Homo sapiens: one gene and its partner. The protein of the gene in region 2 interacts with the protein of the main gene of each other region in a biochemical or structural test. Each region holds a gene or a part of one and is shown on either strand. Other genes may lie near its edges.

Evidence for each region.
Region 1: the proteins of CDC27 (region 2) and ANAPC4 form a complex in vitro, tested with the Homo sapiens proteins (2 studies listed by BioGRID).

Annotation. Positions count from the first base shown.
Region 1 is NC_000004.12:25,415,235-25,418,984, reverse strand, and holds the end of ANAPC4 (anaphase-promoting complex subunit 4), read right to left. Parts: intron 3,586-3,750; coding exon of another isoform or gene 3,579-3,585; exon of another isoform or gene 3,520-3,578; coding exon 3,445-3,519; intron 2,561-3,444; coding exon 2,387-2,560; intron 1,370-2,386; coding exon 1,246-1,369; intron 831-1,245; coding exon 603-830; 3' UTR 487-602; downstream 1-486. UniProt on the Homo sapiens protein: Component of the anaphase promoting complex/cyclosome (APC/C), a cell cycle-regulated E3 ubiquitin ligase that controls progression through mitosis and the G1 phase of the cell cycle.
Region 2 is NC_000017.11:47,154,696-47,158,445, forward strand, and holds part of CDC27 (cell division cycle protein 27 homolog), read right to left. Parts: intron 3,609-3,750; coding exon 3,511-3,608; intron 2,690-3,510; coding exon 2,535-2,689; intron 2,430-2,534; coding exon 2,218-2,429; intron 170-2,217; exon of another isoform or gene 92-169; coding exon 1-91. UniProt on the Homo sapiens protein: Component of the anaphase promoting complex/cyclosome (APC/C), a cell cycle-regulated E3 ubiquitin ligase that controls progression through mitosis and the G1 phase of the cell cycle.

The DNA of each region.
Region 1 (3,750 bases), on a different chromosome or scaffold from region 2:
TGATACAGGAACAATTCCTGATACCTACCCTTCTGACAGAAAAGATTAGACTTTTTCTTCATATTCAATTTGTTCACCTTCTCTCTTTCTTTTTTGAGACAGAGTCTCACTCCATCACGCAGGCTGGATGGAGTGCAATGGCGCAATCTCAGCCCACTGAAACCTCTGGCTCCCAGGTTTAAGCGATTCTCATGCCTCAGCCTCCCAAGTGGCTGGAATTATAGGGGCATGCACCACGCCCAGCTCATTTTTGTATTTTTAGTAGAGACGGGGTTTTGCCATGTTGGCCAGGCTGGTCTTGAACTCCTGACTTCAGGTGAGCCACCCACCTCAGACTCCCAAAGTGCTGAGATTACCAGCATGAGCCACCATGCCTGGCCCTGTTTTCTTTAAACACTAGTTCTGCACATAGCATTAAAGAGAAAGCTCAGAAAAAATAAAGTCTATCATAGTGACTATATCACTAAGAGAAGATGAAGCAGAATATGAAAAAATAAAATTTACTGTTTATTTCTTTGTTACACAAAGGTGGTCCAAGACATCTTAGTCCATCTCCTATGTCCTTTTGGCCATAATTACACACACAATAATGGCAAGCTAGATTAGGAGTCTAGCTCAGGGTCAAGTTTTTCCACTTTAATGACTATCTCTGGAGCTAAAGCGGCAGCACCAGCTTGTTGGTTCTCTGCCTCTGACTCCGACAACACTTCTTCCTTTATTTTTACAGGCTTATTACTGGCCTCCTCCTCTTCATCTGAAGACTCATCGAGCTCCCATTCATCATCTATGTCCATTTCAAATACTCTCACATGACGAAGATTTGAGCTTAACTAAAAAAGAAAAGGCCATAAAAGCATTTTTAAATTAATGGCTTATCATATATAAAGAATTAGAAATCAGAAGTCTGAATCAAAGAATGGTTTTATAGGAAAGTTATATTCCCATCAATTTACAACAAAATCAATAAATTCAGCCTTCATTTTGTATAAAAAGATCTCCACATAACAACAGTGGCAATTTCGTGAGATTAAAATCTAGTATTATTATTAACTACTTAGTAAGCTTTATCAGAACAAGAACTAAATAGCTAAGGCCACCACATGATCATAATCAATACAAGCTATAAATCACAGTAAAAATATTTGCACAAAAGGACCTTATATATCATGTATTTGATGAAGGTTCCAAAGAAGCAACGTTACTTCTTGTAATTTCTTAGTTGCTGAACGATCTCTAAACACTTACCACACAGGACACTTTTCGAAAACCATTCCCAGCAACATACTGTGCTTTCATACTTTCCAGTAATCTCCAGTGCTTCTCAAAATGCATGGTACGGGTGGGAATAGCACTACACTGTTCATCTAGCCTAAAGAGGGAAAAAAACCAACTCAGGAATGAAAAGGGGATCTTATCCTCCCTAGTTTTACTACAGGTGGTATTAGGGTCAATTATGGTTTTGACTTCTACTCATACTTCTATTTCCAATATAATTTTAGCAACTGTTGTGTTAGAAAAAAAGCTGTGATATAATATTCTATAAAAATTCCATATTCTATATTCTGGCTAGGCACAGTGGCTCATGCCTGGAATCTCAGCACTTTGCGAGGCCAAGGTGGGAGGATTGCTTGAGTCCAGGAGTTCAAGGCCAGCCTGGGCAACATAGTAAGACTCTATCTCTGTAAAAAAATAAAATTAGTCAGGCAAGGTGGCACATGCCTGTAGTCCCAGCTATGAGAGGCTGAGGCAGGAGGGTCACTTGAGCCCATGAGTTGGAGGCTGCAGTGAGCTATGATTGCGTCACTGCACTCCAACCTGGGTGACAAAGAGAGGCCCTGTTTCAAAAAAAAAAAAGAAAAGAAATACTGTAATTCCAAACAGGCAGAATATCATCTTAGCAAGGTTTCTGACTCCCTTTCAAAGAAAGCAAATGGATACATTTTTAAATTAGAGATCTGCTTACTTAAGTCTCAGTCAATTAAAGCCATCTCTTGGAATTGACAGTATACTTCCTACATGGGTACTGAGGTCTTAATTCTGGAAGGAAAATACTGAAGGCAAATCAAAAATAACTAATTCCAACCAACTAGGGTTAATGCTATCCTTAAAAATGTAACTAAAAGAAGTCCCATTATCCACTCCAAATAATTCCCCACCTTGATTCCAGCAAATACTTCCTGATTTACTAGTAAAGCAAAGGGACAAAAAAAGCTATTAAGGCCAGCATATTTTGAATGAAAAATTGGAGCATTTCTGCTCAGCTACCTCTGTGGTTATCTCTAGTAACGAAATAACCATTATCTAGCGTACCTAAAAGGTTGGAATTTATAATGTGCATTAAAAAAACATTTAACTGTAATATCAGAAAGACAATGTTACTAGTTACCTTGTAGAATAAGTCCCAGTGAACTGATATTCTGCAGAATCTTCACTGTTATATACTAAAGACAAAGGCAGCTGGACCAAGAGTCTATCTCTTCCTTCACGTCCTACAGTGTCTTTAAGAACTACTGTTACAGTTTCATCATCATAAAACTGTGCATCTAAACAACTGTAGATGCTAGAATTAAAATAAGTTTTGTTATATCAAAGATGATCGTGACTACTGAGAAAATATTGTATGCATGTTATACTGGCAGCAAGCAGAAAAAAATTTAAAAGTTAAGTGACATTCTGTACAATAACATTTAAAATATATCATTGGTTTGTATTAAAATCAGTTACTTTTTGTACTGATTATTCACATATATAACCAAATCTTAAAAATGGGTAATCATGACCCCCAAAAATCTGTGAAGTTGTTTCAGTTCTAGAAAGCCCCTGGCCATCAATGGTTAGGCCTTAAGCCTGTGGAAATTCTATGAATGACACCTTATATACACATTCAGCAGAGTTGACTAGACTGAGAAATAAAAATAAGATACTACACATGAAAAATAGGCACAGCAACTCCAAGGACTTTATCATAAAAAAACTTATTTTATGTGAGGAAAAAAGTGAGAAAAAGATCAGCCTATGATTAGTCACTTCTTTCCCTTGCGAAGCCTCAGGGATGGCTTAGGTACTGTTACCATTTTGAATCCTAAGAAAATCTCCCATCACTAAGAATGGCATCACCTCATAATTTTTTTTGGTCGTAACAAGAACTTCAGCCCTGCAGGCCATCTGCCCATGGGAACCACATTACTTTCTTTGTCAACAGGGAGCTCAGGAGTATTAATTATAGGAAACCGTACGACATAAACTGCAGGGCAGTAAGGTTCTATTCAATCACAAGTCAAATCATTCTCTATGTATAAATACACAAAGAATCCTGCCCTTGATGTGGGAAGTGGCAAAGCCCTTTTACCTATATTACCACCGTAACTGAGTCTGATCCTATTCCTAAACATATACACATATCACATGTATCTACATTTCATCCAAACAAGATTCAAGACTTACCTTCTTCTGACTTTTTCTGTTGTGGCATATGTAAAGCTCCCAAATTTAATAGCAATTAGTCCATTACTCACAGATCTTCAAGAAAGAAGGGGGAAAAAAAGAGACTCTGTGGAACAACCTGGATAGTCAATAATCTAAAGGCTTAAAAGAACATGATTGTCAGGGTCAGTACATGTACTTCTTTAGAACACTGAGAACTTGTTTAAATGCCTAGATAGATAAACCAATTTGGTTTAAAATCACACAGTCACCAAAGACATTTGGAATAGAAATAACCCAATTATTTCTTTTTGGTTACATCGTGGT
Region 2 (3,750 bases):
TGGCACATCAATTACAGGAGGTGTATTAGTGTAGTTTTGTAAATAGGATCCATCTCCAGGACTTGGGGTTTCTAATGGCAAAATCCCAAAACTGAGAAGAGGTTGAAATCAAGGTGTCAAAAAGTCATCAAGGCATATATAAAGCAGCAGTATACTTAAATTAGAAGGTCTAAAAGGAAGAGAATGGCAAATCAGTCTTAGGGACAGTGAGGATCTGAGGGGCAGATTAAAAATAAGCTGTGAATGTAGACTATTCCACCCACCATAACTAAAATTTTAAAAAGCTATCAAACAAGGAACTAAACTGAGCAACAATTACTGATCTCAGGAGATTTATTAGAAATAAAGAAGAGTAGCTTTATAAATCTAAGATCCAAATGATGAGATTACTTCAAATTCTTGGAATTTATGGGATTTAGACACAACTACAGAGAAAATGTCTCTAGAGACCATTAGATAACTATAACTCTCCAGAGTTGTAATCTCATGGTCATGCTATTTTAGTAGTTCCCCGGCCTCAGGACCTGATTCATAGAATTTCTTCTAGCATATATGTATATATTTTTTTGAGACAGAGTCTCGCTCTGTTGCCCAGGCTGGAGTGCAGTGGCATGATCTCAGCTCACTGCAACCTCCACCTGCTGGGTTCAAATGATTCTTGTGCCTCAACCCCCAAAGTACCTGGGATTACACGTATGTGTCACCATGCCGGGCTAATTTTTGTAATTTTAGTAGAGATAGGGTTTCACCATGTTGGCCAGACTGGTCTTGAGCTCCTGGTCTCAAGTGATCTGCCCACCTCAGCCTCCCAAAGTGCTGGGATTACAGGCATGAGCCCCCATGCCCAACCCATTCTAGCACATAATTTTTCATTTTGATACTTTTGGATATGTATCCTCTGGGCTGAGTTCCTGTATTTATACATACATATACTTCTAATAATTTTGATAAAATATTTTATATTAATAGGTGTGACAGCTAGGTTCAGTGGCTCACGGTAATCCTAGCACTTTGGGAGGCCACAGCAGGAGGATCACTAGAGGCCAGGAGTTCCAGATCAGCTTGGGCAACACAGCAAGACCCCATCTCTACAAAAACACTTAAAAAATTAGCCAGGTGTGGTGGCATGTGCCTGCAGTCCCAGCTACTCAGGAGTCTGAGGTGGGAGGATCGCTTGAGCCCAAGAATTTGAGGCTGCAGTGAGCTATGATTGTGCCACTGCACTCTAACCTGGGTGACAGAGTGAGATCCTGTCTCAAACAAAAAAAGGTAGGTGTCAAATTTCCTCCATGTTTTGGAAAAAGGCACTTTAACAGTAACCAGTGGTGCCCTGATTATAACATTTCATGAGGCTCACCGCTATCCATTAATGCACAGCCATAAAGACAGTATTTTTTAATGTGTTTACTACCTAATTAAGGAATATTTCAGAGTTTTAAATTTTCCTCCAATTTTTTTTTTGAGATGGAGTCTTGCCCTGTCTCCCAGGCTGGAGTGCAGTGACACCATCTCGGCTCACTGCAACCTCTGTCTCCCGGGTTCAAGTGATTCTCTTGCCTCAGCCTCCCGAGTAGCTGGATCTACAGGCGCGTGCCACCACACCCGGCTAGTTTTTTGTATTTTTAGTAGAGACGGGGTTTCGCCATGTTGGCCAGGATGGTCTCGATCTCCTGACCTCGTGATCTGCCCACCTTGGTCTCCCAAAGTGCTGGGATTACAGGCGTGAGCCACTGCGCCTGGCCAGTCCAATATTCAATATCAATTTTTTTTGAGTTGGAGTCTTGGTCTGTCGCCCAGGATGGAGTGTAGTGGCTCCATCTCGGCTCACTACAACCTCCGCCTCCCGGGTTCAAGCAATTCTCCTGTCTCAGCCTCCTGAGTAGCTGGGATTACAGGCGCCCGCCACCATGCCCAGCTAATTTTTGTATTTTTAGTAGAGACAGGGTTTCACCATGTTGGCCAGGCTGTTCTTGAACTCCTGACCTCAGGTGATCTGCCTGCCTTGGCCTCCCAAGGTGCTGGGATTACAGGCATGAGCCACCGCACCTGGCAACATCACTATTTGCCAGTTTTTACTTCATTTTCTGAAAACAGAATGCCCCTGTTTCCACAGTGATTTAGAAGTTGCTGTTGTAATAATCTGCATTACTAACAATATGAGTTATCATAAGATCATTTGGTATTATAGCACATTTGAAAGTATCTTGTTTGACTTACCTTGGGGTTAATGGACTAAGAGCTGCTGGTCCTCCTAATAAACTTCGACCAGTTTTTGGTTTATTTTGAACCTGTTTAGATAATATGGAAGTTCCTGTTCCCAGTGGGACAGTATCAGGTGAAATTACAGCTGAATCAATATAAGACACTGAGGAATCTGTATTCAAGGAGTACTTTGAATTGGAAGATTCTAAATTCAATCTGTTTAATTCCTGAAACAGAAAATTTCTACCAAGTCATTCACAATATATTATTTAGTTCAGATCATTCTTTGTAGTTTTCATAATATTTTGAACACTAGAATATAAGACACTTACAATTGTGTCCTGGGGTGTTTCCGTAAGAACTGTCTCAGGCTGTCTGTGAGATAAACTATGATTAGGTACTTGTGTTGTGCAAGAGTTGGGCAGACAGTTGCTAAAGTTCTGTAAAGATGTGAATTTAAATGTTTGGTCAGGATCTGGCTTTTCACCTGTGAAGACAAAAAAAAAAAAAGTTTGTCTCTGAGGAAGTGAGGAATACATGTTTTTCAAGTATGCATAAATCAGTGGAAACAGGAAATAGGCCTTATCCAAACTTTAAAAATCTCCTGTCCACTTCTGCTAATCAAATTTACCCCCAAAAAACCCATCTATCAATATATCATAAAAGTTTACCAGTAAGATAAAGCTGTAAATGAAAATAAACTACAAGAACACTAATTTTAAACATAACAAATCGCAGAAAAATGCAGATTTCTGTGTTTGTTTTAAAGCTGAAAATAACTAGATCTCATTTTTCTCAAAGTAGGAGATGAGGTTGAAGAGTTAAAACCCATCATATTTTACAGTAAAGGTTGAAGCCCTTCTATATATACATAGATGCAACAATGCTGAAAAATGGTCCTTTATGTATCCTAGGCCAAATATACTGAGAAATTCTCTCCCTGTACTGTTCAGGTCTTGTAAGTTTCAGGCATTTATTAATTGCATTAGAAATTTTATTAATTTTCTTATTCAGAAAGCAATTTTGCTAGTGTTAAACACACAATATAACCCATTCTAGAGGACACCAGATACTTGAAAATAGATTGGTTCAACAGAAGAATCTACTGGATTTAATCTTTGTGTAATTTTCAGTTATATGATTCTTGAAACATACCGAAGATTCTAACTTATTTTTTATTCTCAATTTTAACTTTGAAAAATATTTTTCTTGGGGGTAGATGATCTGTATTGCTCTCCAAAAATTAAGTAGCAGGAAAAAAAGAAGAGGAGATGGGAACCCACCCACCTCTCAACCCCACCCACCTACCTATTTCACATAATGATTCAAAGGGAGACCAGAGGAAAGGATTTAAACTAAGGCTCTTTTGGTAACATTCTGATCCTTTGGCAAGCCGATCTGTCTTGCTGTGGAGAGAAACAAGTAGATTAAATAAGCTACAAACCCCAAAACCTGTATCATAAACTTTTAGTATAAAAAATTAGGTAAAAGTTACAGAAGTTCAGAGAGCACTCTTTGTGATGCTTCTCTAAGTTACCAATTTCTCCC